4 separate regions of the Homo sapiens genome follow, and all the other regions are reported to be linked to region 2. Evidence: microRNA targets listed by miRTarBase, many of them from high-throughput screens and not tested one by one. Region 2 holds a microRNA gene; each other region holds the end of a gene's coding sequence. Distances are between the middles of the regions.
The links. Region 2 holds the annotated microRNA hsa-miR-544b (ACCUGAGGUUGUGCAUUUCUAA, at 4,079-4,100, shown strand). A microRNA usually pairs through its seed, bases 2 to 8, with sites in the 3' UTR of a target mRNA and lowers its output. Matches are read on the target gene's strand: a 7mer-m8 pairs with bases 2 to 8, a 7mer-A1 pairs with bases 2 to 7 and ends in A, and an 8mer does both.

Region 1: miRTarBase lists MACC1 as a target of hsa-miR-544b. Seed matches in the 3' UTR shown: 7mer-A1 at 2,767-2,773, 7mer-m8 at 3,627-3,633 and 7mer-m8 at 3,996-4,002.
Region 3: the mRNA of PCCB is a reported target of hsa-miR-544b. The part of its 3' UTR that is shown has no 7-base or 8-base seed match.
Region 4: miRTarBase lists GON7 as a target of hsa-miR-544b. The part of its 3' UTR that is shown has no 7-base or 8-base seed match.

Annotation. Positions count from the first base shown.
Region 1 is chr7:20,136,389-20,141,566 of GRCh38, reverse strand. It overlaps MACC1 (MET transcriptional regulator MACC1), which reads left to right. Exons shown (of 7, transcript NM_182762.4): 7 at 409-5,178. The coding sequence ends at 621. MACC1-OT1 (MACC1 3' UTR overlapping transcript 1) reads left to right here and starts at 1,141. Exons shown (of 6, transcript NR_110114.1): 1 at 1,141-1,250.
Region 2 is chr3:124,728,408-124,733,783 of GRCh38, forward strand. It overlaps MIR544B (microRNA 544b), which reads left to right and starts at 4,032; the gene lies at 4,032-4,109. UMPS (uridine monophosphate synthetase) reads left to right here and starts at 2,045. Exons shown (of 6, transcript NM_000373.4): 1 at 2,045-2,220. The coding sequence starts at 2,065. It also overlaps the pseudogene RPS26P22. RefSeq lists enhancers at 1,703-2,302, 1,715-2,124.
Region 3 is chr3:136,329,474-136,334,651 of GRCh38, reverse strand. It overlaps PCCB (propionyl-CoA carboxylase subunit beta), which reads right to left. Exons shown (of 15, transcript NM_000532.5): 15 at 4,483-4,747. The coding sequence ends at 4,626. Among named protein-coding and RNA genes, the nearest start is that of PCCB, 82 kb to the right of the region's middle.
Region 4 is chr14:93,199,499-93,204,676 of GRCh38, reverse strand. GON7 (GON7 subunit of KEOPS complex) reads left to right here. Exons shown (of 2, transcript NM_032490.5): 2 at 895-1,783. The coding sequence ends at 989. Among named protein-coding and RNA genes, the nearest start is that of GON7, 5.0 kb to the left of the region's middle.

The DNA of each region.
Region 1 (5,178 bases), not on the chromosome of region 2:
TTTGGTGTCATAAAACTCACCACAGATAGGTATAATAATAATAATTAACTCTAAAAGTCTCTCAAATAGTAAAAAGCCTATCTCAATAACATTTGTTACCATCAAAAAATTGTGCAAGGAATTTTATATTCACATGAAAGCAACAGCAATGTATAGATGATGGATCAAGGGAAAAAAGGCCCTATTTGTAGTTATTATTTTTAAAATCTCTAGTTTTAAAAACACAGGGATATAACAGGAAGCTGATAGTTATTAAACCATATTTTCTATGACATCAAATAAGTCCATGTGTAATTGGTATTCCGTTTTATCTTAAATCTTAAGAGGCTTTTTACATCTTTTTTTTAAAAACGATTTTCCTCTCCTTTCTACTTCCACACTACTCCAATCTATTTTTTTTCTTTATAGATGATGTGGAAACCTGCCTATGATTTTCTGTATACCTGGAGTGCTCACTATGGAAATAACTACAGAGATGTGTTACAAGACCTTCAGTCAGCTTTGGACAGAATGAAAAACCCTGTGACTAAACACTGGAGAGAATTAACTGGAGTTTTAATACTAGTAAATTCTTTGGAGGTTTTGAGAGTAACTGCATTCTCCACTTCTGAGGAAGTATAGAAACAAAGCGTGTGTTTTTGATGGGAGGGAAAATGAGGTAATGGTGTGTGTGTGTGTGTGTCTGTGTGTGTCTGTGTGTGTCTCTGTGTGTCTGTGTGTGTGTGTCTGTGTGTGTGTGTCTGTGTGTGTGTGTGTGTGTGTGTAGGAAAGAAAGAATCTCAGAAAAGCATTATATTAATTTTCTTCATGCTCAAAACCAGTTTTTTTTTCCTGATGAAAGCACAGCCTAACTGATAACCAAGATGGGTTTTATCCTCAAATATGTATTTTTGTGTATGTTTCAAATACAAGTATTAGGCTGCTTTGTTCTTAGAAAGGAAAGAAAAAAGAAAAGTGCCCTCTCTCTCTTTCAGTGTTATTTTAAATTTACTAAGTCAAAGCTGTTTGAATAATTACATCACACAGATATCTGGGTAAACTAGAGACTATCAACATGATCAAGGCAGTGTTCCCAGGAGGCAGCTAGAAAGAGGGGAAGCAAGCACACACCCTGTGGCCAGTCACGGCTGCCCGCTTTCCACACCTGACCTCTTCAGTTCATCAGTGGGGTTCACCAGCATCACCCCCATTTTTCATGGGGAGAAACTCAGAAGTGGAGAGAACGTCTGAGGCTACATAGCCAGTACAAAGTAGGTTTTCTGCTTGAAAAACCTGTTTCTATTTCTTTTTAAAAAATCATACTGCATAACAGAATAGTAAAAACAAAATGCGTGTTAAGACTTACAGGGAAACAGTTGCCGTTTCATTTTAAGTGAGACTTGCTACTCTTTTTCATCGTCTCTTGAAAGACTGACAGAAGGAAAATATGACTTATCAGAAATCTGTTGTCTGCATGCATGGACCTAGTGTTTTCATCAGCTCCCTTCAGCATCTTGGGACCTCTCTAATCCTGCCTAATTTGGGACTTTTTCTGCAGGATTGTAATGTAAAATAGTTCTTTAGCTCTTGGAGATTTTTAATAATACGAGTTATTAAAAACCACCACCACCAGAAACTTGATTAACTTGATTACCCTGTTGAGTAGAGAGGTCTTAACCACCGAAAACACTGATATCTTTATGTTGGCATGCTCATGCAAACACATGTGTGTGTGTGTGTGTGTGTGTGTGTGTGTGTGTGTACCACAGTGTTTTATAAAGCACAGCCTAATTGATTATATAGGACAAAAATTGTATAGGACCCTGGGTCAGTATAAATGCTAATGGCTGACAAAGTTCACAAAGAGATGTATTTTGCTTACTCCTCTGTTCAATCCTCTGGTTGCCTGCCAGTGTTTATGTGTGTATTTGGACAGACATTCATTTATTGTCATTCAGTCAATAGGTAGAGTATATGTGTCTATTTTTTGGCAGGCATATAGATGCTTGAGGCTAATGGGAAAAAACCAGCATGAACTCTGACTTTAGTAGTGCTAAGTAATAGATAATTTTAAAAAATGACACCGTTAAATAGAAAATGGCATGCATACTAACAGTTGCAATGGAGAGGCTGTGATGCTACGAGATATAAACGTAGAGATGCCATCATGTGAAACTGGAAGTGGGGGTGGGTCAGGGAAATTTGTTCTTGGAAAGAAATAATGAACCTCAAGGAAGAGTAGGCATTGTCCTGGTGTGGTGGGGTGTAAGCGGTGATCCCACAAAGCACTGAAGCTCTTAGATGGGTGGGAGCTGAATAGGTGCAGATAGCAGGGGTGAAGGAGTGAAAGGATAAAAGATTCAAGGTTGAGATGAGGATGGAGCAAGAAGAAGCCACATTAGGGCCATTAAGGCTGCTAGAATTTAGAAAGAAAACACACAGCCTCAAAGAAATGTGGGTAAGCCAAAGAAGGATTTTGTTTTGGGAACCTGAATAAAAGATGTCCATTTGGCTAAAAAGTAAAAGCAGAATCTTTTTAGGGCTTTTAATATACCCACCCTGGGATATTTGGTATGCTGGCAATGGTAATTCAAATTGGCGTTTAAGAATAATCTTGGCCGGGCGCGATGGCTCATGCCTGAAATCCCAGCACTTTGGGAGGCCGAGGCGGGCAGATCACTAGGTCAGGAGATCGAGACCATCCTGGCTAACGCGGTGAAACCCCGTCTCTACTAAAAATACAAAAAATTAGCCGGGCGTGGTGGCAGGCGCCTGTAGTCCCAGCTACTCAGGAGGCTGAGGCAGGAGAATGGCGTGAACCCGGGAGGCGGAGCTTGCAGTGAGCCGAGTTCATGCCACTGCACTCCAGCCTGGGTGACAGGCTGTCTCAAAAAAAAAAAAAGGAATAATCTGTACGGCTTTCAGTATTTATATTTGATTATAAGGGAACACAGCCTGACCAAATAATTATGTATACACATTCAAGGACAGAATTTATTTTAATTAAAAATAAATTATGAGAGAAGGAAAAAAAAGCACAGTTTTTACTTTCAGAACACAGTCCTTTTTTGTGGTGATTTTGCTTTCTTTAGAACATTCTTGGAATCTTATTAACATGTCAGCTAACCAGAGAATTTTGGGAAGGGATAGTGGGGATTAATAACTGGGTTTTTCCAGGCTCCAAGATCTAAGAAGACAGAGATCTTGTTAGCTGATTAGTGTAGTAAGATTAAATAAATAATTTAAGGTTTACATTGCATCATGTATTATGATTGTGATTGAGAATAATAAGAGTTTAAAAAAATGAAAAACAAGATCTCTGTAATTTGAGGATGAAACAATGGTTCTAATATTAATACACACAAATATATTTTATAATCTTGTAACAAATCCTTCCAGGGGAAATTTTTTTTTTTTTTTTTTTTTTTTTTTTTTGAGCCAGAGTCTGGCTCTGTTGCCCAGACTGGAGTGCGGTGTTTCAATCTTGACTCACTGCAACCTCCACCTCCTGGGTTCAAAAGATCCTTCTGCCTCCGCCTCCCAAGTAGCTGGGATTACAGGCATGCACCACCTTGTCCGGGTAATTTTTGTATTTTTAGTGGAGACAAGGTTTTACCATTTTGGCCAGACTGGTCTGGAACTCCTGACCTCAGGTCATCCACCTGCCTCGGCCTCCCAGAGTGCTAGGATTACAGGCATGAGCCACTGCTCCCAGCCTTCCAGAGGAATTTTAAGCCCATGTCCAAACATTCTGTTTGTATAAATATATTCTAATTTTTAAATAAATAGTTTCTACTTTTCTGAACTTTATATTTTTTCTTGCTATAATGGATTTTCATAATCAGAAAAGATTAAATTAGTAATCATGAATTGCCTTCAATATTTGGCAGTAAGTCAATGAAATAATAAGGCACTTATATACCATCTTTGACATCATTAAAAGTATCAAATCCCATTAATCTAAAACTTCTTTAAGCATTTTGAAAGCAGAAAATGTTTACATGGTTCTTTCAGTTCCTCAGGCTTTTTGTCTAATGATGCGTGACTTAGGATAAGATTTGAATTAAGTGCCCAGCTTGAAACATAATAATTTTTCTGTATAAGCCACAGATCCTCTACCTCCTTTGTGTTAAAGCCTTTATATGAAACAATTAAGTAGAAGCATTCAATAGTGTGTCATTAACTGTTCATACTAATAAATGGATACAGCACATTTTCATGGCCTGTAATGTAGAACATACTATATAAAGTTCTCAGTTTGGGGATGACTAGGTTTCTGGAAGGAATAGAATGCTAAATCAATGGATGGCATTGGGCTGAGAAACACTGCTGCTACTAATCAGCCTTGAATGTGTAATGTGAACATGCAAAAGAGAACATGCATACACTCAAATTTGTACAATGCTATAACTGGAAGTTGAAGGACTTGAATTTTTATATTGTGCTATTGTTATGTTTTCTGTAATTGTTTATATCTAAGGAATTTTTGAGGTAATATAAAAGAAAAAGAGAATAATGAACAATGATGTCACTGGAGGGTTTTTACATTAAATTAGATCATTTTTCTTCTTATTCACAATAATAATCTTAATCTTTAAGAATTAATTATAATTTAATATTATAATTCATAATCTTTAAGAATTAATAATTATAATTTAATATTATAATTAATAATCTTTAAGAATTAATAATATAATTTAATATTATAATTAATAATCTTTAAGAATTAATAATTACAATTAATAATTAATAATAATCTTAATCTTTAAGAATTAATAATAATCCTTAATCGCAATAATAATCGCAAGGAGGAGAAGTAAGTCCCTCCTCCTTCTGTATGAACTTTTCTCCCACATGCTGCTGTATGGTTTAGTGAGAGTGAAGTTCTAAAGAACATCAATATGATTGGTGGGATAATCCAAAGACATTTTTTCAGAATCAAATGGCATGTCGAAGGTTTGTTTCTTGCATATGTATTTACTGGTCCACAGCACAAAATAAAGTGACCACATATACATAGGAAAGTTGAATTTGTACACATACAGCATCTGAAATGTATCTGATGTTCAGCATCAAGATTTCACTGAACATTGTAGAAATGTGTATCTTTTGCATGTATATTTTACATTGATTTTCTATTTATGTACATCTAGAAAGTTTTAACCCTAATAAATAGTTTTGTAATTTTGAATAATAGTG
Region 2 (5,376 bases):
CCCAAGTAGCTGGGACTATAGGCATGTGCTACTATGCCCGGCTAATTTTTGTATTTTTTGGTAGAGACGGGGTTTCATCATGTTGACTGGGCTGGTCTCGAACTCTCAACCTCAGGTGATCCACTTCCCTCGGCCTCCCAAAGTACTGGGATTACAGGCATGAGCCACCACACTCAGCTCTACCAACTTTTTATCAAGTGTTTTTGAGTGAACTATCTTATTGAATCTTCATAGTGATTTTTGGAGAAAGTTAATATTATTATCTTCATTCTTTTTTTTTTTTTTTGAGCGCAGTCTGGCTCTTTCGCCCAGCCTGGAGTGCAGTGATGCGATCTCGGCTCACTGCAAGCTTTGCCTCCCGGGTTCACACCATTCTCCTGCCTCAGCCTCCCGAGTAGCTGGGACTACAGGCGCCTACCACCATGCCCAGCTAATTTTTTTGTATTTTTAGTAGAGACGGGGTTTCACCATGTTAGCCAAGATGGTCTTGATCTCCTGACCTCGTGATCCGCCCGCCTCAGCCTCCCAAAGTGCTGGGATTACAGGCGTGAGCCACCGCGCCCGGCTTCTTCATTCTATTTTTGAGAAAATTGAGACTCATATAGCTCAAAATGCATTGCCAAAGATCACTCAGCCAGTAAGTAGAATGGGACTAAAATCCAAATGTTTTGGTTTGAAACTTCATGTTCTTTGTAGTGCACTATACAGCTATGCCTTATCTGTTCCTCTTTTTTAAAAAAGTATTTGTTATAGTTGACACATGATATCGTACACATTTATTGGGTACATAGTGCTATTTCAATACACACAATGTACAGTGATCAAATCAGAGTAATTCATATATTCCTCACCTTAAATATTTATCCTTTCTTTGTGTTGGGAACATTCAAACGCCCCTCTTCTAGCTATTTTAAAATATATAGTAAATTATTATTGACTACAGTCACCCTACAGTGCAATGGAACACTAGGACTTATTCCTCCTATCTAGCTGTAATTTGTGTCCTTTAACCACCCCCTACCCTTCCCAGCCTCTAGTGATTACTATTTTATTCTCTAGCTCCATGAGATCAACTTTTTTAGCTTCTGCATATGAGCGAGAACATTTGGTATTTATCTTCCTGTTCCTGGCTTGTTTCACTAACATAATGTCCTTCAGGTTCATCCACCTTGCTGCAAATGACAAGGTTTCATTCTTTATGTGAATTTAAGGGTTATTTTCCTTAAGCTAGAATAAAGTATTGCCTTATATACACAATGGAGAAGGGATTTATTTGTACAGATTATTTATTGATTATTTCTTTAAGGGATTTATTTGTAAAGACCAAATATGTTTGGATTTTCAGATTGTCTAGCAATATTATCCTCCTGGATAACCCTGATACCAATCAATTAACCGTCTTCTAACTCTCCTCCTTCCCTCCCTTACCTTTTCTACACCTATTACCTAAGCATTTGAGGTACGCCAAAGGAAATAAAAAAGTACTCCTCCAGGAAGCAGAGTACAGACAAAAGAGGTAATGAATACTGTAATGATCTAAGTGCTATATATTCCTATGTGCAAACTGCTATGGAACTGTCACGTACTAGATGCTATGAAGTTAATAAAAGAATTGAGTAAAGGTCCCTGTCTTTGATAACTTATATTCTATTTGGAGAAACATGGGGGGTAAATCTTGGCTAATAACTAGCAAATATAACATGTTAGGCCAAGGAGTAGAGATAATTAAGAGAACTAGTCGAGAAGGCATTGGCTATTAAAAAATGGACAGGATTTATGCAAACTCTCATGAAAGGTGGGACTTCATGATCCTACAGTCAATCTAGCTGTTCTGGGCTTTGAACCCCAGCGACCCCATCCAGAAGAAACCAGGAGAAGCACAAACTGGCGCTAGGTTCGCTACCATCCACCTGACCCTTGAGCCCGGGGAAACCCACGGGTGCAGCAAGCCGGGAAAGCTGCAGACGAGGCAGGCGGAAGAGGCGGGACTTCGCGGGTGACGTCATCGGGGCGCCGGAGGCCCGGGGCGCCTGGGAATTTGAAGCAAACAGGCAGCGCGCGACAATGGCGGTCGCTCGTGCAGCTTTGGGGCCATTGGTGACGGGTCTGTACGACGTGCAGGCTTTCAAGTTTGGGGACTTCGTGCTGAAGAGCGGGCTTTCCTCCCCCATCTACATCGATCTGCGGGGCATCGTGTCTCGACCGCGTCTTCTGAGTCAGGTGCTGGCCTAGGAAGGGAAAGGACAGGGCTTGGTGGCGGGAAGGAGGACAAGGAAATGGAAGAGGGTGACAGGAGTTGGGCCGTGAGTGAGAGCAAAAGAGCCAAGCAGGCAGACCGACCCTACTCTTGGTTTGGGGAGTAAGCATGAGAAGCACAGAGGCCAGGGGTTGGGCTCCTCGAGAGTCGTCTGTTCTTTCACCCACACGCTTAGACACGTGTTTTGCAAAAGTCGGGAAACCCAGTTTGGAACGCTTTCTGGCACTGAAGCACACTTGAATGAATTCTGTATATTTAACTCTTTAAGAAAATTAGACTTGCGGCCGGGCGTGGTGCCTCATGAGAGTAATACCAGCACTTTGGGATGCCTAAGTGGGCAGATCACCTGAGCCCCAGGAGTTCGAGACCAGCCTGGGCAACATGACGAGACCCCGTCTCTACAAAAAATTAGCTGGGTGTGGTGGCGCACGCCTGGGACGCTGAGGTGGGAGGATCACCTGAGCCTGGGAGGTCAAGGCTGCAATGAGCTGTCATTGCGCCACTGCACTCCAGCCTGGGCGACAAGTGAGACCCTGCCCTCAAAAAACAAACAAATAGACCGGGAAAACGTGGGTAGGCAGAGAATTCAGTAGCTGGGAAATTACTGGTGAGAAAAGGAAAATAGAACAACCAGAACTCTGTGATGTATACAAAATTTATCAGAGCCCAGAGAGACTTCAACCATACTCCCCTATGCAGCCCCGGGACAATTATTTAAAGGAATTTTGTCCCTGACTAGCTGCCTCTCCCATTATCTTAATGTACCTGGAATGTGTGATACAAAGAACAATGTATAGCTAATCAATCGCTTGTGTTATTATTTTATTTATTTATTTTTTAGATGGGATCTCTCTTACGTCACCCAGGCTGGAGTGCAGCTCTGTGATCATAGCTCACTGCAGCCTGGAACTCCTGGGCTTAAGAGATCTTCTTGCCTCGGGTGAGCACAGGGGCTCATGCCTGTAGTCCCAACTTTGGGAGGCTTTCTTTGGGAGGCTGAGGCGGGTGGATCACTTAAGGTCTGGAGTTCGAGACCAGCCTGGCCAACATGGTGAAACCCTGTCTCTACTGAAAATGCAAAAATTAGCTGGGCATGGTGGTGCACACCTGTAATCCCAGCTACTCAGGAGGCTGAGGCAGAAGAATCAGGAGGTTGCAGTTAGCCGAAATTGAGCCACTGCACTCCAGCCTGGGCAACAGAGGGAGACTGTCTCAGAAAAAAAAAAAAAAAAGAGATCCTCTTACCTCAACCTCTGAGTAGCTGGAACTACAGGCATGTGCCATCATGCCCACCAAATTAAAAATTTTTTTTTTTTGTAGAGAGGAGGTCTCACCATACTGCCCAGGCTCGTCTCAAACTCCTGGCCTCAAAAGATCCTCTTGCCTTGGCGGCTTCCCAAGTAGCTGGGACTACAAATGCCTGGTGCCACCCCCGGGCTACCTCCTGTTATTTCAATGCAAATTCTTGGTGAATATAGGAACTGCCCCTTCTTTTGCTTTAAAAATCCACTTGTAACTACTGTAATCGAAGCCTATAGTCAGGGCAACTACTCATATTAATTTTGCCTCAGCCTCTTCCTGTTAGGTCCACACTTGGAAGGGCTGTTTGGAAAGGGGAGTTGAATTTTGCACTGTGCGGCCAGAAGCAATAATTAAGACTAGAAGGTGGACATATTGGGAAAGCAGGTTTTTAGTCAATATAAGGAAAATTTTTGTACAAATTAGAGGTTTCTAATACAGTGCTTCTCAACTTTGAGTATATATGAATTACCTGGGAATTTTGTTAAAATGCAGAATCCATTTCTGTAGCTCTGAGACTAGACCTGAGGTTGTGCATTTCTAACAAAGTGCCAGCTGAAACTGCAGACCACACTGAGTAGAGGGCCGTAAATATGCTTTCCAATACAGTTTGCTACTAGCCACGTGTTACTATTGAGCATTATGAATTTTTAAGTTTAAATAGTCATATATGGCCAGTGGCTATCATATTGGACTGCAAAGATAGAGAACATTTCCATCATTGCAGAAAGTTCTATCAAGAAGACATATAAGTTTCCTCAGCCCACTTAAGGGTTTATGTTCACTAGGGACCACTTTGTGTGGTTATTGTAAAAAGTATTGAAGATAGGTTGGACTATTAAGGTTGCGGTACTTTGGACCATTAACTTCTCACCATCCAGAATCTTGCTATGGTGTATCTTAGCAATGTGGAGAATTACTAAGGATTTTCTAGGGAAAAATTGATTTATTTTAATAAGCCAGCTGATAAATGACAGAAAAAGTTTTTTGATAACTAGATCATGGTGTGTGTGTGTGTGTGTGTGTGTGTGTGTATTTTGGTGATTAACTGGGGAGGAGTTCAAAACATGGAGAGACTTGGGTATAACAAAACTTCTTTTCACATCTTATGCGAATAGAATTTCTCAGTATTTACACCCCAAAAAGCAATATAATTTATGCTAAACTCTAACTTCCCTTAATAAGTGATAATAAGTGATATTTGACTATAGTACTATATACACATTAGTGTACATAAAGTAATTGGAGAGGAAAGGTAGCATTAACTCACTAAAAATGCATTTTCCAAATCTGTTTTTATCTCTCTGTCAAAATTTGCAAATCATGTTTGAATTAATCATATGCTTGTTATAATTTAATGATATACAGAAGAATTCTCTTCTTTAAAAAGTACAATTTCCATTTTCTTTTCCTCAAGAGAATAGTTTCTCTTCAGTCCTTAAGGATTCAGCTCCTTACATGGGCTTTGGTGAGGGTCATGAGGCAGCACCCACAGGTTTAAATCAGATTGGGGTATTTGGTCCTTGTGGGATTCACAAGATGGATTACTGACTGCCTTGCTGTGAATGGCACAACTCACACCTTAATGTAGCTTCGCATACAGCTTGGGAAGAACATAGGAGGCAAAGTTGCTCACTGCAGTAATGTCCCTGACTGCTGCGGCCTCTACTATGTTTTGCACGACGAGCTTCTTAATGGTCTTTTCCTTGGGCATGCATCGGACATAGTATGTGCCACTACTGGCCACAGCCCTTTTTGGCACGATCATTGTTCCTTTCTTTTCTTTGTCATCTTGGAAGTAAGGACCTGAGAGAGCTACA
Region 3 (5,178 bases), 12 Mb from region 2:
AACTTAACTAACTATTGAGGCTGCCACATTGGCTGGAATATGCCAGCTGGATTCCACAGAGGCCCCAGACTGAGGCACTGCCTATCAAGTGGCTGCAACTCCTGCTTGGAATTGTAGAAATCCCATGCTGACATCAGAGGTGCACAGAGTATGAGGACCAATACTTCTAAAAGGGTAAAGTCATAGCTCTCCAGAAATCCTTTGGAACCAGAAAGACAAAACAGTCACATCTGTTGAATAGGTGAAGAGGGCTGATTCATCAACTCCACATGTGGGTGAGTATCCTTCACAGACTTCTTTGGCTGAGCAGACCACATCTTAAGCACCAGCACCAGGACAAAGTATCAGTGCAACCAGAGGCAGAAAGTTGGGCTGGGGAGACCAAGACAGGGTCAAAAAAAGAAGCTAGAAGAACTTTGCAACAAAAGCACTTTCTAACAAGCATTAGAAGGGTGTATTGTGGATGTGCTCCCCATTACTCTAGCAACTCAAAAAGATGACTGGCCATCTGTTGGTACTGCTTTGCAAGAGAATCATGCGGGAGATAGGAAAGCTGTCTAAATGTAGTAGCTTTCTGGGTTAAGACAAGCCCAGGGGAACAGACCACCAACCTCCCTCACCCCTACTCTTAGGCCAACCCTTAGAAGTCCATCTCACCTTCCTCATCAGCTGAGTGGTAGTACTTTGAAATGATCAGAACACAGGCTTGGCTGGGGTCAAACCCATCTGAGTTCAAATCCCAGCTTCACCACTTGTCAGCTGTGTAGCTCAGGAGGAACTGGATTAACACAAGGCGGGGCAGGACCAGCAAGACCCTAGCAGTGCTTCCTACACCACAGCTCACCATATTATCTGCTCTCAGTTTAAAGACAGACACTTGTCAGCTATCAGCTCAGTGGACCCAAGTATTTCCCATTTACAAAATTCAGTGTATTTTCTTTTTCCCTTTAAGGTGAGGGCACCAGCTGGGGAAGGCATTCCCACACAAGAGAACACTCAACTGTCATTACTCTCAAGGTATTCCGTGGTCCATGGAGGCTGGTCCACTTGACAAAGCTTCCAAGGTCTTGTGGCTTTGAGTTTCTTTGACCAGCTGAGTTTCTGTACGGGAGTTTCCCCACCATCCAAGGCTTCCGTAAAGCTGCTAGCCCAGCTGCTCTCCTGAGCTGGTTCCTCTACCATCTTACAGCCCCTCTACCATCTCGGTGTCCAGACTGCACAACCTGGTGAAACACTTCTTGGACTCTTACCTCCAAAAAGAAAAAAAAGAGCTTGTATGTACTCTTTTATGGACCATAGCAGAGATCACGAAAACAAGAACTGTGGGCTCAGAAAACTCACTAGGCAAGCAAGGGAGGGACAGACTGTCCAGGACCACCTACGTGGGCTAAGGACTCTGGAGAACAGGGAGCTCTGGAAGTGGCGCTGGAGCAGAGGAATGCAACAAAATCTGGATCTGGAGTTAGTATGGTAGCTGAGAACAGGACTTCCAGCTCAGTGGGAGGCCACAGAGATCAGTGAAGAGACTGCTGCAAAAGTCCTCAGAGCCCAACTAGGATTGGTGACTGAAGGAGAGTGGAAAGATGCTTTAAGAAAAAAAAAAAAAAAAAAAAAAAAAGAATGACTCTTAAGGGCTACTGGGAATGGGGGGTAGGGGAAAATATTTTTGAAATGGGAAAAGTGGAGAATAAACAGTCACACATTAAGTTGACCTTGAAATAATGATTCACTGTCCAAGCAGTGCTTACAGATCTCTGGAGCCAAGGGAAAGCCATCAGTAGTGGGAGGGCCCTGGGGTTTCACCAGAGAGGATGCCTGAGGTGGGGGGGCATCTTGGATCAGCACTCCATGGTTGGTACTTCTGCTCAAACTTAATCTCCAGTTCGGTAAAACTATTAATGTTTTAACTTAGTAAAATCAAGTCAACAGTGTAGGAGGAAAGGCTTTAAAGTGGTTTACAAACAAAAAGGACTAATTCATATTGATAACCACTCAGTTACTAATTGAGGTAGCTTAACCATGTATCTTCAGTTTAAAGACAAAATGAACTACAAAGAAGTCGTGAACTTTAGAAGGTTTATTGTTGATAGAGCTGTAGTGATTCTGAAACTTGTATTTATGGTAGCACTGAGCAAATGAGTGAAATATATTGAGAATAATGGGAGCCAGGGTTATTACTGCTGTGGTAAGAGAGACAATACAGAATGGGGGAAGGCAAAGAAGCACCCATGGTGTTGGATTAAAAGTTTCAGTATGAACTCATGATTTAAAAGTATGATAAATATGTATTCATATATACATGTGTCCCACATATATATACACACACTTATTTGCATAAATTTTCCTAGTTCTGTCTGCTGAAATGCCTCAAAGCAATGATATCCAGTATCAGTGTGAATACCTAGTGCCAATTTTAGCTTCTAAATGACATACCTACTAAAAGAAACTAAGAAACTACTATATACTACTACTACATACCTATTAAAGAAACTCCTTGGAGAAACTGCTGATTCCTGGGCTGGGCAAGGAAAATACAAGATAAGCCTAGAGCATTATCTTGTCAGAAAATAACGAAATACTAAAAAAATCAGTGGGATATATTAAAAGCACTTTGGGAGGCTGAGGCGGGCAGATCACGAAATCAAGAGATCGAGACCATCCTGGCCAATATGGTGAAACCCCGTCTCTACTAAAAATACAAAAATTAGCTGGGCATGGTGGCACACACCTGTAGTCCCAGCTACTCGGGAGGCTGAGGCAGGAGAATTGCTTGAACCTGGGAGGCAGAGGTTGCAGTGAGTCGAGATTGCGCCACCGCACTCCAGCCTGGCGACAGAGCGAGACTCCTTCTCAAAAAATAAATAAATAAAATAAAATAAATCAAGTCCAAAATGATACTAAGAAAACAAAAACAGGAGAAAAGAAAGCTCCCTTCCTTACCTAGAGTTCCAACTAATAAATATGAGAGAGTTAGAAACTCAACATTTTATAATCAATGCAGAATCATTGATTGAGGCAAAAATCATCAATGAATACTAAAATTATTGGGTGAAAGTTTATTTATTTAATTTTCTGAGACAGAATCTAGCTTTGTCACCCAGGCTGGAGCACAGTGGTGTGATCTCGGCTCACTGCAACCTCCGCCTCCCAGGTTCAAGCGATTCTCCTGCCTCAGCCTCCTGAGTAGCTGGGCATGTGCCTCCACATCCGGCTAATTTTTGTATTTTTAGTAGAGATGGGGTTTCACCATGTTGGCCAGGATGGTCTCAAACTCCTGACCTAAGGTGATCTGCCCACTTTGGCCTCCCAAAGTGCTGGGATTACAGGCATGAGCCACTGCGCCTGGCCCAGGTGAAAGTTTATTGACAGACAAGATTAAATAATACCCCACAAATTAGTTATCAGTTACAAAGAGAAAATGGTAACTACCATGGAAAAACCTTTGCAGCCACGACCTTAACCATGTGATCAGAATCAGTTACCAACAGGAGGAAAAACTGACATAATGTGCTTACTAATGTGACGCACTGAAAGGAATATGTGTTAGTCTTATCTGAATCTAAACCTCAGGAAACAGACATCCCAAACTGAAGGACACTCTACCAAATAACCAGCAAGTAAGCTCTCCTCAAAAATGTCAACGTCATGAACGACAGACTATGTAAGACAAAGGACCTTGTTCCTAGGAGATACAAGTTTCTAGGAACACAGGGTCACGAATCTGCAACTGACTTTCAAAGGGGTCAATTAAATAATTATATTGTATATGTTATACAATTATATAATTATATAATGTATAAATACATAATATAAATATATAAATATATATAATCATGTTAGATATAATTATACATTAATTATATTAATAATATAATTAGATATATCTTATATGCATATTATATATTATTAGATATATCTACGTATGGAAGAAATAAAGCAAATGGAGAAAATGTTACCAACTGGAGAATCTAGGTGAAGTGGATACAATACACTTCTTGCAACATTTCTATCGGCTTGAAAATTTTCGCAATTAAAAAGTTTTTTTTTAATTTTAAGAACACATTTCTGGAAATAACCTGAGTCAACATAGGGTGCTATGCCTTATTGAGCATCTGTACTGCTAAACACATATACCACAATTGCAAACATCACATTTAATCCTCAATTCATGGAGGAATTAGGAGATAGATAGGGCATATTACCCTATTTTTAAAATAAGGAAACTTAAGCCTAAGAAATACTTTGCCTTAAAAACTTACTATATATCTCACCTATGGATAAAAAAACTAACTCGAGAGGAAAAAGAACAATACCCAGAGGTGTGAAATAAAAATCAGCTCTAGATGATAACACTGTGTACTATTTTTCTTTCTAGTTGTATTGATTTTTCAGATTTCCACCTAAAAAAATCGAATTTATGCTCAAAAAATACAACTTAAAATGTTTAAAAAAGTAAATAATTTTACAGTAAGGCACAAAAGAGATCTTTCTAGAATTTAATAAACTTAGTTATTCTAAGTTATCCAACTATTTGGATTCCCAGGTTTCATGATTGCAAAAGGCAGGAATGGGATGTGAATGGGCAGACAGTAATTCAGTTCTTGGTTTCTTTTCCTTTGATTTGTTTACAATGGAATATTTGCATGTTTTCTCCAAGGACGTTGTACCTTCTTGCTGGCCAAGACATCCAGGTCACAGCAGATTCGGGCACGTGTGGAAGAAGGTTGGATGATGTCATCCACAAACCCTGGTGAAGCACAGAAAAGGGAGTGGATCATCTGCATCCCGAGATGATGCCACCCCTCAACCTTCTGCTCAGCCTGGGCACCATCCCTGGGGCCAGCAGTATAAGCAGTGCCCAACCTGATACAGAGATGGTAGGCCCTGTGAATTCCCCCTTGTATCCCAGGAGCTGGCCTGTTCTGACAGCTCCCCAACTTCTGGCCTAGGAGCACTTGGCAAGAAAAGGAAAATCGGACACCCTCCCTATACCCTGCTTGCTCCAATGCCTCCATCCTGCCACAATGAATTCAATAGGAAATAAAGAAAATACATCTAGGTTTTCAAAAATGGCTATAACAATTCATCCTTGTACACAAGTCCTGCAATGTGACTTTACCACTTCTCTCTTCAAGAGGTGGATTTGTATTCCTTCGCTTAACCTTGTTGAGTTTTCTT
Region 4 (5,178 bases), not on the chromosome of region 2:
GAGCCAGACACAAAAGGGTACATGTTGCATGATTTTGTTTATATGAATGTACAGAATAGGCAAATCCATAGAGATAGAGTAGATTAGTGAGCCAGGTGCAGTGGTGGGCACCTGTAGTCCCAGCTACTCTAGAGGCTGAGACAGGAGGATCACTTGAACCTGGGAGTTTGAGTCTAGCTGGGCAACATAGCAAGACCCTATCTCTAATAAGGGGGAAAAAAAGTAGATTAGTGGTTGCCGAAGGCTGAGGGGAATGGAAAGCGACTGCTAATGGGCATATCATTTCTCTTTGGAGTGATGAAAGTGTTCTAGGTGATGGTTGCACAAGCTAGTGAATATACTAAAAACCACTAGGCCGTACACTTTTTAAAAGAGTGGATTTTGGCCAGCCACAATGGTTCATACCTGTAATCCCAGCACTTTGGGAGGCCGAGGCGGGCGGATCACGAGGTCAGGAGAACAAGACCATCTTGGCCAACATGGTGAAACCCCATCTCTACTAAAATGCAAAAAATTAGCCGGGCGTGGTAGCGCGTGCCTGTAATCCCAGCTACTTGGGAGGCTGAGACAGAGGAATCGCTTGAACCCCGGAGGCGGAGGTTGCAGTAAGCTGAGATCGTGCCACTGCACTCCAGCCTGGCGACAGAGCAAGACTATCTCAAAAAAAAAGAAAAAAAGAGTGGATTTTATGGTGAATGAACTAATATTTCCAAAGAGGAAAGTGATAGAAAATAAAGATTTTAAACACTGAAATTCTCAAAATCATTTTAATCTAAAATGTGCAGGTTTTATTAATCCCTAAAGTGAAATGGTCTCATTATCAACCACTTTAGCTATATATATTTCTTTCAGCCATAGAACGTATTGTCATACAACAAATATTTATTTTAAAAGGTGATGATGAAGATGATGCAGAAGATGAAAATAACATTGATAACAGAACTAACTTCGATGGACCATCTGCAAAACGGCCAAAAACACCGTCTTAACAATAGCCTTCATGACATTTAAAAGATGGCTGTTGTATCCTTATTGTCACACTAGGACATTTAAGGAAGACTTATGCTCTAATTTGGAAAAAGCATTTGTGTTGTTCTCCTGGGACAATTTTGTCAAAGAGAAAACTGGTTTTTCTGTTTCTAGCAAAGATAGTAAAGGCTTAGAAATAAAATCTGTTTTCTTGAGAAATAAATTTCAGACCCTGGAAGGAAAATAGAACACTTCATAATGTATAAAATCCTCTAAGTTGGCAACTGAATTTTTATCATTGTTTTCTATTTTTAAAATAATCATTGATTTGTGTGATGTCTACATCTTTTAACTTCTGGTTCTGTTATAAAGAGTACATGTCACGGTTCATAGGCAGTAACATTTCAGAGAACTGACATGAACAAGTAGTGAAAATTGGGCATTAAATATAAAAATAACAGTTCTTCATAAACAGAAGGAAAATAAGGAAATAGAAATACCGACGAGAAAGGAGAGTCCTTGAAAGAGACCCAAGGAAACCCTGAATTCATACCCACGTCAAATATGCACATATCCTGAGATGATGCCACTTTGATGAATGTGCATTAGTCTGATTTATCATGTACCTTAAGAGAGCCAGATGGGGTATGTTTTTGTGCTGTGATATGGTATTTATACAGGTACAAATATAAGGCCTTAAGTAAACAATCTGCATTGATTACAATTTGGATATTTCCTCTCCTCCTGTAGCCATACTTTGATTTTGCTTTAAAAAGATTATTGAATCCTTTTAAAAATATATATTCCTAAAATATGTATGTGTGTGTGTTTCTTTTCTGCTCGTCAGTGGGACTAAGGCATTTTTATTTGCTGTGCATCCTTCCTGATTTAGATAGCTTCAATGCAAAGAAATCAAGTAGCATGTACCTAGTAAAATACAAATAGTCATGGAATTTTAGAGTTGGAAGTCACTTTACAAATTATGTGATTTATTTCAGAGATAAATCTAAGGATAAGTATTTGCCCTCAGATTACAGAGCTAACCATTGACAAACTGGGTTACATAAATAGCCTTTAGATTTTTTTTAAGCTGATAAAAGGTGAGAGAAGATCAACTTTTTTTTTCTTTTTTTTTTTTTTTTTGAGACAGAGTTTCACTCTTGTTGCCCAGGCCGGAGTGCAGTGGCACAATCTTGGCTCACTGCAACCTCTCCCTCCCGGATTCAAGCAATTCTTCTGCCTCAGCCTCCCAAGTAGCTGAAATTACAGGCATGTGCCACCACGCCCAGCTAATTTTGTATTTTTAGTGGAGATGGGGTTTCACCATGTTGGTCAGGCTGGTCTCGAACTCCTGACCTCAGGTGATTCACCCACCTTGGCTTCCCAAAGTGCTGGGATTACAGGCATGAGCCACCACGCCAGGTCAATTTTTTTTTTTTTCCCAGGGTCAACTTTTTTTTCAGATGGAGTCTTGCTCTGTTGCCCAGGCTGGAGTGCAATGGTGCGATCTGGGCACACTGCAACCTCCACCTCCCAGGTTCAAGCAATTGTCCTGCTTCAGCCTCCTGAGTAGCTGGGATTGTAGGTGCACACCACCACGCCCGACTAATTTTTATATTTTTAGTAGAGATGGGGTTTCACCATGTTGGTAAGGCTGGTCTCGAACTCCTGACCTCGTGACCCGCCCGCCTCAGCCTCCCAAAGTGCTGGGATTACAGGCGTGAGCCACCGTGCGTAGCCTTTTTTTCTTTCTTTCTTTTTTAAATTTTTATTTTTAGACAGGGTTTCACTCTGTCACCCAGGCTGGAGTGCAGTGGCACGATCGCGGCTCACTGTCACTGCAACCTCCGAGTCCCAGGCTTAGGTGATCTTCCCACCTCACCCTCTCAAATAGCTGGGACCACAGGCATGCACCAGCACACCTGGCTAATTTTTTTGTATTTGTAGAGATGGTTTCACCACGTTGCCCAGGCTGGTCTAGAACTCCTGGACTCAAGGGATCTGCCCACCTCTGCCTCCCAAAGTGCTGGGATTACAGGCGTGAACCACCATGCCCGGACTAATCAACTTTTATGAATCACTTTTATTGTGAAATAATTTAAGTGAAACTCAATTTACACACTTTTTCATATCCTTGAAATATTGTTTTAGTTGGAACAGCAAGCAGCCTTCCACTAAGTACTCTTGGGCAATCAAAACAGTGCCAACTAGAAAAAGTTATGGATGGTCAGAAATTATCTTTGTTTAGTTTATGTTGATGTTTCTAACATTTAACTTATTTATTATAGTACTGTTATCTCTATACAATCATTAAAGAAAAAACTGGTTGGGCACGGTGGCTGATGGCTGTATTCCCAGCACTTTGGGAGGCCGAGGTGGGCGGATCACCTGAGGTCGAGGGTTCGAGACCAGCCCAACCAACATGGAGCAACCCAGTCTCTACTAAAAATACAAAATTTGCCTGGTGTGGTGGCACATGCCTGTATTCCCAGCTACTTGGGAGGCTGAGGCAGGAGAATAGCTTGAAACTGGGAGGCAGAAGTTGCAGTGAGCCAGTGGTGCCATTGCACACCAGACTGGGCAACAAGAGCGAAACTCCATCTCAAAAAAGAAAAGAAAAAAACTTACCTGTATATACTGAAAAGAGAGCACATTGTTAAACTGATATTTGAACCTTTTCTCTGAACATTTTATGTTTCCTCCTTTGGAAAATGTGGTTATAAAGAAGAAATTTCAAGATAATATTTGTGTTTGTGTCCCAGTGTTTTTAGGTTCTGATTTATAAGATTGGTCTTTTAATTAATTTTAATACTGATTTCAATTCTAATACTGTCTTCTTCATAAGTAAGCCATGTGTTTGACAAAGATGGACCAGTATAGAAGAAATGCTTTGCCAAGTTGCCTAATCTGCTGCTGCTCTTGGGTCTCACTGTCACTCAGGCTGGAGTACAGTGGCGCAATCAGCTCACTGCAGCCTGGAATTCCTGGGCTCAGGTGATCCTCGCACCACAGCTTCCCAAGCAGCCAAGCACTAGGTGTGTGCCATCACGCCAGGCTAATTTATTTTTTATCTTATTTCTTCTTTTTTTTTTTTTAGACGGAATTTCGCTCTTGTTGCCCAGGCTGGAGTGCAATGGTGCAATCTTGGCTCATTACAACTTCCACCTCCCAGGTTCAAGCGATTCTCCTGCCTCAGCCTCACAAGTAACTGGGACTACCGGCATGCGCCACCAGGCCAGGCTAATTTTGTATTTTTAGTAGAGATGGGGTTTCTCCATGTTGATTAGGCTGATCTCAAACTCCCGACCTCAGGTAATCCACCCGCCTTGGCCTTCCAAAGTGCTGGGATTACAGACACCGCACCCGGCCATTTTTTTTTTTTTTTTTTTTTGAAATGGAGTTTCACTCTTTTTGCCCGGGCTGGAGTGAAATGGCATGGTCTTGGCTCACTGTAACATCCACCTCCCAGGTTCAAGCGATTCTCATGCCTCAGCCTCCCAAGCAGCTGGGATTACAGGTGCCTGCCACCACGCCTGGCTAATTTTTGTATTTTAGTAGAGACATGGTTTCACCATGTTGGCCAGGCTGGTCTTGAACTCCTGACCTTAGGTGATCCACCCACTTTGGCCTCCCAAAGTGCTTGGATTACAGGTGTGAGCCACCGTGCCCAGCTGCCAGGCTAATTTTTTAATTTTTTGTAGAGATGGGGGCCTTGCTTTGTAGCCCTGGGTGGTCTTAAAACTCTTGGCTGTAAGCGATCCTCCTGCCTTGGCCTCCCAAAGTGCTAGGATTACAGGCATGAGCCACCGCACCTGACAAATCTGCCTTCTGTGGTACAAACAGCCACAGGCAAGCAGAATAAAGTTACTCTTTGAAACAGCTCCAACTTTACTTTTGAACAGGAAAGTCAGCCGCACAATCCTACCTAAAAATAAGCTTGACATTAGACTTAGATAAATCTTTTAAAATGTGAAACATATGGAATTTATGCAAGATAGATGTGTTTTCTAAAAGTAAGTCCTTTTGCGTCACAGAAATGTTTATTTTAATAATAGAATTCTGTGGCCAAGGACGAGAACTTTTTTATAATAGGTTGTGGTTGCTTGGCTATAATATTAGGTTGGTGCAAAATTAATTTTAAGACATTTAAACCTTTTTGGGAAGAAAAACTTACTTTGGAAAAGTAGGAAAAAAAATGTATGTGAGGAA